2 separate regions of the Homo sapiens genome follow, and region 2 is linked to region 1. A link means that fine-mapping ties the variant in region 1 to the expression of a gene that starts in the linked region. Tissue or cell type: macrophages after interferon gamma. Region 1 holds a variant in brackets; the other region holds the start of a gene. All regions are shown on one strand. Distances are between the middles of the regions.

Region 1 (8,109 bases):
TGGAAAAGTACCCAGAGAGCCTCAAACTGTATTTATAATGTTCTATTTCTTACAAATATGATATAATGTTAATATATAAAAAACTAGGAGACTGCTGTACAGGTGTTTACTATATTCCTGTAGGCATGTTCAGTGTTTACTAGTTGACAACTAACATGGCATCTTTTTATGCACTGTACATTTAATTTAGATTTTATGCCTAATATAAGAAAAGTGAAATGGGCCCGGAGCCTAGTCTGAAGTCACACAGCTAGTGTGCAAAGCCTCAATCATTAGTATGCATTTAGTGACAGAGGTAGAGAATTCAAATCTACTTACGAAGATATGTGCCTATGTCTTCCTGGGTATAAAGCTGGACAACATTTTCCCACCTTCTTTGCAATCAAGTGTATCTGTGTGCCAGCTAATGGAATGTGGGCAGAAGTACTGCACATATTTTCACACACAGCCCATAAAAACCTCTCATAAGTGATCATCTATTCTCTTCCTCTATTTGCTGGATGTCAATCCTGAAGGTGACTAGGAAAGTTTGTGTTGATGAAAACAGAACCATTGTCAACCTGGATCCCCGAATGTCTGCATGGAGCAGTGTGCCCAATATCAACAACCCCTTATAGCAGGCTGTGTGGATGCTATGCATCAACACCGTAAACTTCTAGTCACTGACATTTGTGAGTTTATTCGTTTTAAAAAATGCATTATTTTAACTTACAAATATTGGTACTGGAAGTGGCGTGTTGCATTAATGAAAACCTTAGCACATATGGCATTGGCTTAGTGGTTGTACAATAGGAGAAAAGAAAGTAGTAATCATAGTGGCAACCAAAATGAGTGATTGAAAGGCACGTCTCAGTCACCAAGGTTTATTGTGCCAGTTTGAGGATGCATCCAGGAAAAACTCAAGTAACAGACACATCTGTGGCTGTTTTTCCAAAGAGGTTCTCGGAGGTTTAATATTTATACATTTTCTTTTACAAAGGTAGAGGAGTCGGTGCGGCAATGAGACAAATGATTACATACTTGTGAGATTTTAGTTAGTACTCGGTAAATCTACATTTTATGTAAGATAAGGTGAACAAAGTAAATAGGAATGGAGGAAGCAGACATCTCAGCGTAGAGTGAAGGAATGATTACTCTCATCTTCTCTTTGTTCTGTACCTGGGAAAATAAACTAGTAGATATTATCAGAGTGGACTTTTTTTGAAAAAGCTGGTGTCTAGTTAGCTCTTAGGGAAGAAAGCCTAAGAGCTTGGAGGGAATATCATGAAGCCTTTCGGACCTCCCATCCCATCATGCCATGAACTTAGCTTCCAAGTTTTCTATGGGGTCCCCTTGGCCAAGAGAAGAATCTGTTCTGTCAGTTAGTGGTTTAGAATGTTATTATTTCTCAAGAGTACAACTTTCGGCTGGACATGGGGGCTCATGCCTATAATCCCAGCGCTTTGGGAGGCCAAGGTGGGCAGATCACCTGAGGCCAGGAGTTCGAGACAAGCCTGGCCAACATGGTGAAACCCCATCTCTGCAAAAAATATAAAAAATTAGCCAGGTGTGGTGGTGCGTGCCTGAGGCCTAAGAATTGCTTGAAACCAGGATGCAGAGGTTGCAATGAGCTAAGATGACACAACTGCACTTCAGCCTCAGGGACAAAGTGAGACTCACAAAAAAAAAAAAAAAAAAAAAAAGAGTACAACTTTCACCTGGGAAAACATGAAGGCTGGCCACATGCCTATTCAGTCCTTAGCTTTATGGCAGGGTCAGCAAATTATGCCCTGAAGGCCAAATCTGGCCCATCACCTTTTTTTTTAAACAAAGCTTATTGGAACACAGCCACCCTAATTTTTTACGTATTGTCTATGATTGCTTTTGTACTACAAAAGCAGAATTCAAAGACCATATGGCCCACAATGTAAATAAAATATAATTTGAAACTTTACAGAAAAATTTGCCAGCCTCTGCTCTAAGGGAAAGGCTTACAAAGAACCGGAACGTAAAGGGAGTTGGCTTTTCCTTTCTAGATATTAAAGAGATAGCTTTTTTGCAAAATGGAATGGAGAAAGTCCAGAAATTTTTGCCTCAATTGTATGTAAATGTCTATTGCTTCCTCATCCCAAATAGTAAGTGATAAGATGGATTTGAAAAACAAATACATAGTAAGACATAAGATGGATTTGAAAAACAAATGAATACTAAGAGATAAGACGGATTTGAAAAACAAATAAATAGTAAGAGATAAGATGGATTTGAAAAACAAAGGCTCATTAAAACTCGGTTCTGAGGTAAAGACAGATTTAGGGTATGGTCTTCCCATCTAGATCTTCTATCTCAGGTACTATCATGGTAGAACTACTAAGTTGTAAGGAAGCAAAAAAAAAAATCAAGATTGATAATTATGAATAAGAAAAAACTTTTAACATGTTTATAGGCACTAGAAACTAAATGGAAATATCTGAAGGAGCTGATTGTCAAAGAAACTAGGAGACCAGACTAAAAATGCCTTTCTTTGAACAACCTTTGGGCTCCTAAACTTGATGAGGAGAAAATAGACTACGAAACCTGTACAAGACCAAGGAGGATGACTCTCCAACATCCACTTTGAATGTGGTCATGGAAGGTAATGGATAAGGAAGAACTTTCCAGATGATAGAGCCAGGAGCCATGGAGAACAATGGACAAGGGAAGAATGTTGCCCCTAGTGAGAAGCAGCAGCATCTAATCCAGGAACTTCCTCCACTGGCCTGGCAAAAGGATTTCATAAAGTTTGCCCAGTAGGGTTTCATCATTGCTTAATCCAGTGAGCTGTGTCTCCCATTCTTTCTTCTTACGAATAGAAGTATTATTGTGAACGGAGTTATTGCGCAAAGTGTCCGTACTTCATCCCTGAATACCGGGGGGAAAGGGACAAGGAAGATAACAAGTCTTTTTTGTCCACAGGTTGAGTTGCCAGCTCATGAGAAGCCACATTTGGACATTATAAAGAAAACTGTGTATCATCCGGGTATTAAGGGCCTGGAATTGGACTAAAGAAGGGGAGGAGGTGGTTCCAGATGACAGAGAAAGATGAAACTGATATTTGTTCTCAGAAGGTTGGACTGTGACAGAGATTGTTACGTGTTCACAGAAACCTTCTCTATTTTTCCTGGGGACATAGTTTGCAGCCCCACTTGTAGAAAGGTATATTTATGTCACCAAGTTCTACCAATAACCAAGGTTATCAGAAATGATGTGTGCTACTTCTAGGTCTGGCTCATAAATCCTCTGACAGGTAAATCGTACTCTCTTCTACTCTCAGGTGACTGAGTACTAATGATTAAAGCAACCTTGGAAGCCATGCACAGAGAGCAGCAGAGGCTCTACAGCCTAAATCTCAGAATGCCCAGAGGACTCAAACATGCCTAAACACCTGTTCCCTCTGAAAGAACTTTGTATGAACAAGAAACAAATTTCTCTTGTGTTAAGTCACTGAGACTTGGGGGTTTATTTGTTACAGCAGGTAATATTACCTTAACTATTGTAGGGATCCACAGTACTTAAGGAGCTTAAATATAATGTTTCAGATCAACTCACATGAACCAAGTATAAAATTAGTTATCTAATAATGTATACATATATACCCAGATCACAATCTTCTGTTAAAATACGCAAAACAGCTTTGTTATTTAGTACTTTAAGTTTTTGCCTGGAGGAGTGTGTGTGTGTGTGTGTGTG[T/A]GAGAGAGAGAGAGAGAGAGAGAGAGAGAGAGAGAGAGAGAGAGAGAGAATTTCCCTAAATAAAATTTCCTCCTTCTTTCTGTCTGAAAGTGGCTCAGGGAATCACTGACTACTATTTCATATGAAATACTCAACACAAAAAGGCAAGCTAGTGCCTCCTACTGGTCCCGCTGATAAAGTACATATCCTTGAGACAGTGTATCACAGAGCTGTTAAGTGGGGAATCCAGGATCAGGGAGTTCTCATGACTTTAGAGCCTGTGTACCATCTACCATACTCCAACATTCTTTACAAGCATTATCATGAGGGTATTTCAGCGGTCCATGTAGATTACTTGGTAATGTTGGGCTGGGACTTAAAATTTGACCCTCAGTTTACTAATAAGGTTTTAAAGAAGCCAGACACTCATATCACACCAGGATAAAATGCTACCTTTCCAAACGAGATTACTTCAAAGCCTTAATGCATCTGGGGAAACAGAGGGTAACCCTGGGGGATATGTAATATTGACTAGACCAAATGCCAGAGATTAGGAGCAGGGAGAGAGTAGTGAAAGTACAGAGGAGACAGGAAACAATTAAAGTTATTAAACAATAATTCTTCAAGGAATCCCTTACATGGAGTATATTTATTTCCACCTTAAACATAATTTTCCAAAATCTAAAGCAAAAGACCTTTTTACTCCATTAGCATTTCTTTCTCGATTTCCAATAAAAAAGATCAGCTGAAAAGATCAGCCAGTAACATCTACAATAATAAAACAATCTCAGCCACCTTTAAGCAATGTACATAATAATCATATTTAAAGTCTATATATAGAAGGTGGTCTGCTTGTCCATGTGAAGACACAGGTATTTAGACAATCAATCCAGATTAAATTATTAAAGTAATAAATAACAATTGAGAACCAACTGAAATAATAGTAGGTGCTAAACAGTAGCAGCACTTAGAAAGTCAACTGCCCTTAAAATAAGCAGAAAACCAAAAGCCCATCACACAGCAGCTGAGATCTGAGTGAATTTTGAGGGTAAAATTGTGTGGGGTATGCAATGAAATCAGTGCCACCAAGTCAAGTTTATGGCAATCTTCTAATCAGAGGCTTTATTGGCAAAGGAAAGGAAGATTCTTTACATGAAAGGAAGGTTCTATTGTAATGATGTCCATGGAATTGGAACTAAAACTAAAATAGCTAAAGGACCAAAATGGTCATTCTTGCTTTAAGGGTTCCCAAGTCTCCTTCCTAACATTTCTCTTTCTCCCTGCACAGCAGTTCCAATCTCCACAGTATGGATGTGCTGTTAATTACAGGTGTCTTTCAACATAAGCACCCAGAATCAATCAGAACTTCTCTTTGAGTCTCTTAGCCTAAATTCCACTCCCCACCAAAAAAAAAAAAAAGGATTTGATTGATTCAAATGTTATCATTTCTCTTTGTGTAGAGTCTTTCACACAAGACCATGATGAAGGCCACTAGGTACCTGTGATGGTTAATATTGAGTGTCAACTTGATTGGATTGAAAGATGCAAAGTTTTGTTCCTGGTGTGTCTGTGAGGGTGTTGCCAAAGGAGATTAACATTTGAGTCAGTGGACTGGGAAAGGCAGACCCACCCTCAATTTGGGTGGGCATAATCTAATTGGCTGCCAGCGTGGCTAGAATAAAGCCGGCAGAAGAAGGTGGAAAGAGCTGACTTGCTGAGTCTTCTGGCCTTCATCTTTCTCCTGTGCTGGACGTTTCCTGCCCTTGAACATTGGACTCCAAGTTCTTCAGCATTTGGACTCTTGGTCTTACACTAGTGAGTATAAATGACTCTTGGACTTAACATCAGTGAGTCCACAGACTGAAGCCTGCACTGTCAGCTTCTCTACTTTTGAGGCTTTGGGACTCGGAGTGGCTCCCTTGCTCCCCAGCTTGCAGATGGCCTATTGTGGGACCTTACCTTGTGATCATATGAGTCAATACTCCTTAATAAACTCTGCTTCACTTACACATCTATCCTATTAGTTCTGTTCCCCTATAGAATCCTAACTAATACCCCAACAGTACACTTCTGGGTACCCTAATGATAGGCTGCCTTTGAAAGCAGGATACAACCATTGTCTCTTCAGTGACTTCCCAGGAGCAAAGAACAGCCTGATACTATTACTTTTTAGCAAAGGAGAGATTGAAAGACGGTTTAATCTAGAAAGAGAAGCTGACAATGACAGGCAGATTGATTTCCATATCTGAAACAAATATTTTTCTGAAGTCAGAACTAAGAATTTAGTGGCCTTGAAAAGCTCTAAGTAGTTTTTCTGTATTTGAAGAAAAAAGAAGTGATTCATCCTTTTGAAGATAGGCATATTGATCTGAATTCAGTCAATTTTGTGGGCATTGGCCCCAACATATACCTATTATTTGCCACTGTCATCAGTATGCTGAACAAACAGGACTCACAGAGTGAGATCCTAAAAGCAACTTTATTTTGCTCTCCCATTGTCCCTGTGAATTTGCTAAAAGGAAGCTGTCCTTCTCCTGCCACTGGATGGAAATCTATCAGGCTACATGGCCTGATGTATCAATGGTCACTTTGGGTAACAAAGTTTTCATTATCACTTCACAAGCACAATAGTAACCAAAAACCTTCAGTCTCTACTACATAAGCACAACAGTAACCAAAAACTGCCAGTCCCTACTAATAACAAAAGTTTCAATCAAACCTGAGTCAATATTAAACATATCCCATCCTTGGAGGAGTGGAGGTATAATTCTTTAACTCTCTCTCCCCATCTGGGATTTCTATTCCCTGTTCCTAGGTCACTGCTCCTTCTGGATTAGAATACAGAGTGGGAAAAGAGGAAGAGCCAAAGGAAATGGGTACATCCTCTCAGGACATGATAGCTGTTTGACAGTGACTCTTTTCTAAGCATGTGTCTGTGCTCTTTCAGAGGCACCTCTGCTGGGACCCTCCAACCATAATTCCATTGTCATGGGGAATGCATCTCTGGAGGCAGGCTTTCTTTATTTAACACTATATACCTCAAATCTCTGTAAAGAACTGTATTGAGCAGGAGCCTTTATTAAATAGACATTCCTAAGGTGAGGTTCCCATTCTGGCCCCAGAATTTTTGCCACATTGGCCCAATATTGGTGGGTGGAGAGGGTGGAGGGAGAGCAGTTGCTTTCTAGTTCCATTCCTCTACTTTGAAGCCACAGGAAGATTTAGATAACTTCTTCACTTTTAGCTTTCTCAGGCATGAGTCAGATATTAGTCACTGTATCTAACAATTCTAGGGACTGTTCATGAAGCTCTCTGAATGATCCCACTTAATCCTCCCTCCCTTGAATTCGAAATAAGGAGCACATACCTCTCCACCTTGCCTCCTTAGCAACAGGATATAGGGTGGGAAGTTTATACAACCTCCTCCAAAGCATTCCTCTTCATAAAATATTCTCATTTTCAAACACCCACATTTTTTTAAATCCCTTACTGACAGTGAGGCTCTCTGAGAATTTTTTGGCCATCTACTTTGAAATTCCTAAAGGATGGTCTGACTCACTTTGATATCTGAAATTTACTACATCTTGATGTCTTGAAACTTTGATTCTAACATCCTATTATACTGCCTAATACATTATAGGAAATCAATTGATCAAAAATGAAAAGAAACGTAATGCTTATGATTTTCATTTTTGCCCTATCTTTATTCCAGTGTTAGAAACTTCCTTCACCTGTACACTGACCTGCAGATCATTCTTGAGTTATCTATTCTTGATGGTCTCAAAAGAAATGTAGTGGGGGAGTTCTAGGACATGACACATGCAGGAAACTGAAATGGAAATGATATCCAGATAGACACAGTGCTGCTGCGAGATGACTGCTTCTCCACTGAAATGCAATTTCACTGTCTCCTAAATTACATTTTCCCCCACCAATTCACTTAATATGCACCTTCAGAATGCTGTCTCGGAATTTAATTTTCCTCTGGGCAAAATGTTACATTCTCATCTATCCTTGAGCATGTTTTATGCCCTTTTTTATTTTCTTAAATAAATGTTGGGACAAAGACAAATGAGCAGAAGCTGCAAGAAGGCGCATGGGCCAGTGAGTGAAAAAGGGAGAGAGACAAAGCCATTTTGGGAACTGTCTTACTTAACTCAGACTTTCATAACAAATACCATAGAACGGGTGGTTTAAGCAACAGAAATTTATTTTATCACTGCTCTGGAGGCTAGAAGTTCCAAATCAGGGTGCTGGCTAATTTGCTTCCCGGTAAAAGATCTTTTCCTAATTTGCCACCTTCTCTCTGTGTCTTCACATGGCAAGGAGATACAGAGATAGAGAGAGAGAGCAAGCTCTCTCTTGTCTCTTCTTATCAGGATACTAATACTTTCAGATCAAAGCCCCATCCTTATGACCTCATTT
Region 2 (8,109 bases), 81 kb after region 1:
ACCTTGCTTCCTGGAGCACAAACCCTGGGAGCTCTGAGACACCATGTAATAAATCCAACTACCTTCTGGCTGTCATGCTGTGAGGAAGACCAAACTAGCCTAAGCAAAGAGCCCACGTGGAGACAGAAAGAGAGAGAGAAAGACCAACCTGGCCCAGCTCCTACTGTTACTTTGATTGGTAGAAACAAATAAGTGCTTCTTACAAGGTCTGTCAATCTGCTCCTGCTTATGGGAAGACAAACTATTCCCAGCCCTGTGTAAGTACTAGAAACTGTTTGGCCCACTGCTTTTTGGTGTCTTTTCCCTAGCCTCGTGGAGTTTCATCCTTCCATTGCACAGATAAGTACTCAGAGCCAAAGGGAAGTACGCAATACAAAGGAACACTCTTGCAGATGTCCAAGACTCTCCTGTGTGCCATGTCCTCCTCTCAGATACTCTGCCCATCAGCCTCTCCAACTTCCCATCTCTGTCACCTCCATCTCTGTCGCCTCCATTTAGTGAAATCACCGGTTTTTGTTTGGGTTCCCCTCCCTGTTCTAGGCTCTGGACACTGCCTCCAGATAGTAAGCTGGGGTCATTATGGAACTTAATTCATTCGTTTCCCTTCTCTCAGGGATCACGATACTGCACTGCCTGTTGGCTAATGTCTGAAAACAATGATTTCATAGATACATACATATATGTGTATATGTATATATACAACCCTTTCCTAAATATGTATAAGTATACATACTTATGATTTATATGAATGTATATATGTGTGTATATATTATATATCTTATACATATTATATATTTATAATATATATTTTATATATGTATATAAAATATAAATATTATATTTTATCATATGCATATATTTTATATATCTATATATTTATATATTATATATAACATATTCAGTATATAAATATATATAAAATGATATATACATATCATATATTTTATATTATATATATGCGTAAATACATGTATGTAATATATAAAATATATATTTTTTTCAAGTGATACTCCCATCTCAGCTTCTCCAGTAGCTGGGACTACACTTGTGAGCTACCGTGCCCAATTCATTTCACATATTATGCTCAATTTTCCAGATATTTCTAGTGATAGGGTAATTCTGCAGAAGCAGAAATCCAAATGTAATTGCTAAAACCTAAATTAAAACTGAATTGTGTTCTTTAATCTTAAAATTCACATTCAAAGACACAAAAAAGGGGTGCCTCTTTATACTTGACAGTAAAGCTTGTTGAAGATGTTCTCTCAGGTAGCTGTTAGCATCTCTAACTTCCCGCTCTTTAATTGGGTATATTCTGACTTCTACCATCACCATATCACTGAAACAGGTCTTATTACACCATCTATAACTATCTTATTAGTACAGCTAAGGAATATATTTAGTTCTTTTTATTTTCCTTCTAGTTCATTTCAGTCTGAGCTGGAAAATGAGTTATTTCCTTACTTGACTTTCTACACCTGTGCTATCCACTCTGGTAGCCACTAGGCACATGCGGCTACTGAATATTTGAAGTGTAGCTAGACCAAATTGAGAGGCACTGGAGGTGTAATACACACACCAGGTTTCCAAGACATAATATGAATTAAAGGACGTGACATATCTCATTAGTTTTTATGTTAATTGCATGTTAAAATGATAATGTCTTAATTATTGGGTTAAACAAGCGCTATCTCTAAAATTAATTTCATCTGCTTCTGTTTACCTTTTTATATCACTACTAGAAAATTTACAATGGCTTATGTGACTCACATTGTATTTCTAATGGCCAGTACTGCTCTATAACAACCTCTTGCACCGACAGAGCCCTGCTTTAAACTTTCCTTTCTTGGTTTGTGGGTCTCTGTTCTTCCCTAGTTTTCTTGCTACCTCGCTGTCTGCTCCTTCTCAGACTTTTCTGAGACCTAAATCTGTTGTTCTAAAATCGTAGTGTGCTGCAAAATCACCTGGGTTGCTTGCCAAAAATGCAGATTCTTGGATCTTATCTGCAGATATTATGATCTGGTAGACTGGCTTGGAGGACCGAGATTCTGATTCAGTAAAATAGAACGAGAGCTCAGAAATTTAGAATAATCTTTAGCCCTATTCTTTCTCATTTTACCCTATACATTCCATAGGTATCATCTTCCCTATCCCACCCAGCTCCAAAGATAGAACTACCACTCACAGACTAACATCTCCCAAAACTCTTATCTTCCAGCTGAGATCCCTCTCTTATCCTGCCCTCTTCTTCCAGCTGCCAGCTGTATATCTTCACTTGGAGGTACATTTGATAAGTTTGAGAAAACTTAGCGTATTCAGTATTTAAATTCTTATCTCTGTTCTCCCTAGCCCATTCCTCCTTTTGACCTCCCAGTTATCCAAGCTAGAAACCTGAAATAATTATTTACTACTTCCTAACCTCTATATCTAATCAGTTAAAAAATCTGACCAATTCTTACTTAACTTCTATCATCTCTATGCCTTTTAAATGTCCTTCATTTAGGGTTTCTCAATCTTGGCTCTACTGAAATCTTGAGCCAGTTAGTTCTTTGTTGTTGGAGGAGGGAGGTTGTCCTGTGCATTGTTAAGTGTTTAGCAGTTACCCTGTCCTTTACCCCTCTAGATACTAGTAGCACCCCTTGCTGGTACAGCCACAATGTTTCTAGACATTACCAAATCCAGTGGGAGGAGGTGAGTGGGAGGGAATCACATTTCAACCCATAGAGCCACTGCCTCACTTGATGGAGGCCCTCTTCTTAATCATCTGCGTTAGGGCAAGAGTTTCCACCTGGCCCTCTAGCCCAGGACCGCACCTCTCTTCTATTCTCTACACTCCTGATAGTTTTACAGTTTTCACAGGTTAAAATTCAGTATCTCTAATATGGCATAAAAAGGGCATTATTTGTTACCTATGCGCCTTTCCAGCTTTCCACTCTACCCATACTGAAAGGCTTTGCAGTTTCCTTAGGGATGGATGAAAGGCGTAAGAAGTGTTAACTATAGACAGTAACTAAGCTAGTAGCTTATGAGATAAATGCAAAACTCCTAGCATATTTTAAATATAGAATATGAGTAAGCATGTACTTTGTGAAACATAGGCAGGATTATGTAAAATATATAGAGTAAGTTAGTAAACTATAAGACATGCCAAAGTTAAATAGAAATATGATGGAATAGAGAGTCACTGATAGCCAAAAAGGGATGGAAAAACTAAGCAATGAGCAATCATGACATCTCTGGGCTATTAACTATGTCACCTCTAAATCAGCCACCCATTGGTCACACTTAGAATAGTCTCATATGTGCTCTGCCCAGGAAATGCAAATAAAACCTGTATCTGTTCAACAACTTACCGAGTAAGCTCTGGCTGTGACCAGGCATACTTCTCTGCGTCTATCCAATAAAGCAGGTGTGTACCATTGGCCCAAAGCACTTTCCACCTGTGGGCCTCCTTGCTGACACCTCACCTCTGGTCCTCGTAAGTATACCACCAGCGGAGAAGGCTGTTGTGGCAGATAGGATATATGAACATTACTTAACCCATGATTCAGGTGATGGCGTCCTTCCACTTGCTTGCACCTTATCCTAAGTGTGTCCACTTACCACAACTCTTTCACCTTTTCACTGGATACTTAAATTGAATAGGCTATATTATTTAATAATCTTAATTTGATCTGTGAGCCTTCTCTGTTTCATTACCTTTAGGATAGCTTGCCTAGTTTACTAGGAAGTCACAATTGCATCAAATTAAGTTCCATGCAGGCATTAATCTCCTCCCAGAACGCTCCTGCTTTAGCCCCTATCATTTTATCCTGTTTATATCCATGTGTTTCTGTTATGACACTTTTCACACCACACTGTGATTAACTGTTTATTCCTCTCTCACTAGTCTGTGAGCTCCTTGGAAGCAGAAATAAATTTTGTTTTTGTCTAATCATTGCTTAACAAAGTGCCAACCACAAAGTAAACAGTAAAAGAATTACAGAATGCAACCTCCTGCAGACACAGTTGAAGAAACTATTCATTGTTTTTTCCTTTCTGTCATTCCCTAGTTCTAGGCATCAAATCGCTTGCCTAGTCGGCGAGCAGTATGAAAGTGGTGGGAGGACCATAGACGCACTGCAGAAAACAGCTTACAGTAGATGCAGAGAATTACTAGCACGCTTGGGCCTTGGTGGGGCTTGTCTTATTTACCTGTTCCTCATTTTTCACTGGGAGTTTAAAACAAGTTTTTGTTTCCCTGCTATCCCGACCTTAAGATAATTAAAAGGCCAAGAATCTTTAAGAGACTTTCAGTTCTCCTGGATTCTAGATAATAAAACCCACTTTAAAAATTAATGAGCACCTATACTGTGACAGACAATAAGGATACAATAAAAATACCATTTCTGTTCTGAGAAAATTTACAAGCATCTTCCTGGAGCCTACATTTTACTCGAAGTAATAGCTATTTTTATAGCTTACAATAAAAGATGCATTTTGGAATATATTTCGCTTGAATTAAAGAAATAGAATGTGAGACCTTAAACAAAGGGTCCGTTCTTCAGATCCTTTTAACTCACACTCTCCTTCAGGGGTCGGGGTATTTGGGTGCAAAAGTTTACTATCACGCACAGGTGTAGAGATGTACAAATACGATCCAATTTAGTGGAAACTGTGTCTTGTAAGAGATGGCCCCCAGGGACCTCCCACATCCCTAACCTCTCGGAGGACTGCAAAAGACAGCATCTGAAGCACCTCTTGCCTCGCCTTGAATCATTTGCCACTTCACACCGCCCCGCCCCTTCCGTCCCCGGAGGCGGCCAGCCTCGTGTCCGCTCTAGGCTTCTCCCGGACGTCTCTTTGTGGTGGCGTTGAGCTCCTCTAGCCCGCGCTTGCCGTCCTCTCAGTGGTAGCGCGGGGACTGGCTGGGAAGCGGTCGGTCGAGTGTGGCCTGTGTGGACTCGCATCTTGCCCGAAGCCGGGCGGAGGAGAGCTCAAGCTAAGGTGGAAGGGGAACGGGGGAGGCCCTGGAGAGGAGTGGGAGAGTGGAGACAGGCCCCTGGGTGGCGAGGGAGCCCGGCGGCGTAACGGGGGAACCCGGGGAGAGGTGGAAGAGGAGGCCCGCACACGTGAGGGGGATTTCCAGCTGCTGGCCGGGGCCTCTCACCCCTACCCCCGCGTAGTTCATCTGCGACGCAACGCCTTGTGTCAAAGCCCAGCACAGGTTCTGCCGCCTCTGACCTCTCTGAGGGTCGTCGCCTGTCCTGTAGGCCCAGGACCTTCAAAGCTACGATTTTGACGTGAACTACTTAGGGTTATTGTGGCCTTGAACTCCGTAGACAGCCTTTATCTCTGCTATTTTTGTTTTTAATTTTTCAAATCAGAATCCTTTCAACCCTGGCCGTTTGAGGCCAAAGGCTAATGTTTATTTTTCCATCCCGGTACCATGAACTTAGTAGGTGCCCACTGGACGGATCTGGTGGTTTTAGTCATTTGTAAATAGCCGTGAACTAAGGAAGAAATGTATGTGGCCTCTTACAGGGTTGGGTTGGGAATCATTGCAGGGTTTGGGGGCACTCTGTTAGGCATGATAACAACAGCTCTAGGCTTGAGTTTCTTCATCTGTAAATGAGAATGATAGTACTTTCCTCAGGGTGGCTATGAAGGTTCCTGAAATGATGTTTGCCCTAAGCACTGTACCTGGCATGTCCTGACTACCACACTTGAACCAAATCTTTTCAATGGTGTTATGGACTATATTTTTGTTTTAAATTGCCTTTACCTTTCTTATTGTACCTAGATCTTCCTGAGGATTGAGACTCTCCTCTTTGCCTTTGGGCCAATTGTCATGTTATAGGTAATCAGTATTTGAAGATGACAGGCACAAAAAGTTCACAGTTGCAGGATGCGTGACTTTTGTAGGCGTATGTACCCATAACTAAAGCTCCTGATTTGGGGAGTAGGGGTAGATTAAATTATATTTTTATTAAATAAGAGATAATCTGGGAAGACGCTGTGTAAGTTGTAAGACCCTATGCCAAGAAAAGCCTTTAATTTTTTTCATAAAACATTTCATGAAAACTTTTTTTATGTTTTTCATAAAAGAGACATCAGTTGACCTAAAAACGAAGTAAATTTTTTGTTTTGTTAAATTTCCTCTAAATGTTACTTTTCCCACTAATAAGGAGACTGGTAACAAACTAAAAAACTATGTTAAGGGAAATTAACATATTGGAACGGGTATTTCTGCATCTCCCCTACAAATTTAGGAAGAAAAAGTGAGTTCCCTAATTAATCCTCAATTCCCTCTGCTGTTGTTTTGTTAGTGGCTGTTTTGCTGTTTTGTTAGTGGTGGGGGGGGTGTTCTGCATTAACACCCCGAAACCCCTGTGATAATGTCCTAGACCTTGCAAGCATCATGGCCGCGTGTGAGTTTTCTCAGCTTCCTCAACCTAATCTACCTTCCTTACCGTTTGGTAATGGGCAGCAAGAGAAAATGCTTAAGAACTCTTTAAAACTACTGATGTTTTAAAGTAAAGCTGGATAATTCCCTGAGCTGGCAGCGTTCAAATTGTATGAGGAGCAAATACTTTTGTTTACTGCCTAAGGTAGTAGGAGAGGTCTAATCAAAGTATTCTACATTTATTTCATTCTCTTTTGATTCTTAGGTAGTGCTACAAAAATATTAAATGTTAATCTTAGAATACAAAACATGCTGTATTTAGGCACTAAAGTAAAGTGATGTCAATCCTAAGGCAGCAGAAAGTCTTAATTTTCTCCTATGCAGAATTTTTAAAAGACAATGTCAGATAAGAAATCTGGACTTAGGAGAGACTTTATTCAAAAGGGTTATCACAAAAGGAGAAAAGGGACTTTTGCAATGGGTAGAACCAAAAGATCTGCAAGAATCTCCAAGGAGTGAACTGTGCTAGAAAGTTTTGGTGTGAGGAAGTAGGATATAAGGGTGGCTTGATCTAATAGTAGATCTGAGAATGTTATTCCTTGGCTCTGGCTGAGAGTTGGCCAAAGCTCAGGAACCTGGGGGAAGGAGAGAAACTAAAGTTTGATTAACAAGTATTTTGTTCCACTTGATCTGTAGGGCCAAGCAGATCAGCAAATTATTCATAAATTCATAGTTGAAGCAAAAAATGAGAATTTGGAGGGTCTTTCTTTTGCCTGGTCATAGGTAAACAAGGGGGGATCCTTGAGTCTTACCTAACTCAAGGGTGGGAGGATTTTTTAAATTATAGCTAATAAGGAGCCAGCACAGGGCTCAAGCAAAATTCAACTTGCCAAAAAGTGTTTTTATTATTTGACATTGAAAAGTATTGAAAACCTGGATTTTATTTATACCATGGTGAATCTTTCTAAAACTGGGGTTTTTGTTATTGGTTTGCTTGTTATCCTATAAGAAGCTGGATTTTTTTTCTTCCATGAAGAGTACTAGGTTTTATATTGACCAAAGTGTTTGGAGCAAATTAATCTTTTCTTGCGTTAAAAGATTATTAAAATAGGAACTGGTAAGATGCTATAACCAGTTTAAATGACAATTAAAAGTAGACATGTTTATAGAGCAGGAATATTGAAATAAATGTGCAAGTGAGGGCAAAATTGGCTGCTTCCACAGTCAGACGGAAGTCCATTGAACCTTCAGCAGATAGAATTTACAAGAATACAGACAATTATTTTGCATTGCTGTTGGTTATCTACAGTTGACAGTTGTAAAATAGCTCCAAGATGCTGAAAGAATCAGACTTCCCATGTAATCAGAATGTGAAAACCTGAAAGGCTGTGCTCTCAACAGTGCAGTTTTCTATTGAAGCAGATGTTTTTCTCTGTCCTTAGTGTATCGAATTTAAATCTCCTCTCCCTCAATAATCTTCCCTAGAGTTAGACTTCCTGTAAGGCAAATACATATCTGTGTTTTTCTTACTCTTTTTTGCTATCTTCTATAAAATATAGAAGATATCAAAACATTTTAAATTTAAATTTTTTAATTGAATTATCTGAAGCAGTACATAGCAAACTGTAATGTGCTTACAAATCACTTGGGTATCTTTTTGAAATGCAGATCCTGACTCATTGGGTCTGGAGCTGATACTGAGATTCTGTATTTCTACTGAGGTCTCA

What was found. PIP is the estimated chance that this variant, and not a neighbour inherited with it, causes the effect.
Region 2: ARL14EP starts here. The variant in region 1 is fine-mapped to the expression of ARL14EP in macrophages after interferon gamma (Alasoo 2018, PIP 0.93).

The regions. Positions count from the first base shown.
Region 1 is chr11:30,237,469-30,245,577 of GRCh38, forward strand. All of the region lies in intron 1 of ARL14EP-DT (ARL14EP divergent transcript), which reads right to left. Among named protein-coding and RNA genes, the nearest start is that of FSHB, 11 kb to the left of the region's middle. The variant T/A (reference allele first, on the strand shown) is at 3,706.
Region 2 is chr11:30,318,220-30,326,328 of GRCh38, forward strand. It overlaps ARL14EP (ARF like GTPase 14 effector protein), which reads left to right and starts at 4,885. Exons shown (of 4, transcript NM_152316.3): 1 at 4,885-4,983. ARL14EP-DT (ARL14EP divergent transcript) reads right to left here and starts at 4,727. Exons shown (of 2, transcript NR_187437.1): 1 at 4,699-4,727. RefSeq lists silencers at 3,271-3,330, 4,985-5,114 and enhancers at 4,547-5,152, 4,665-4,914.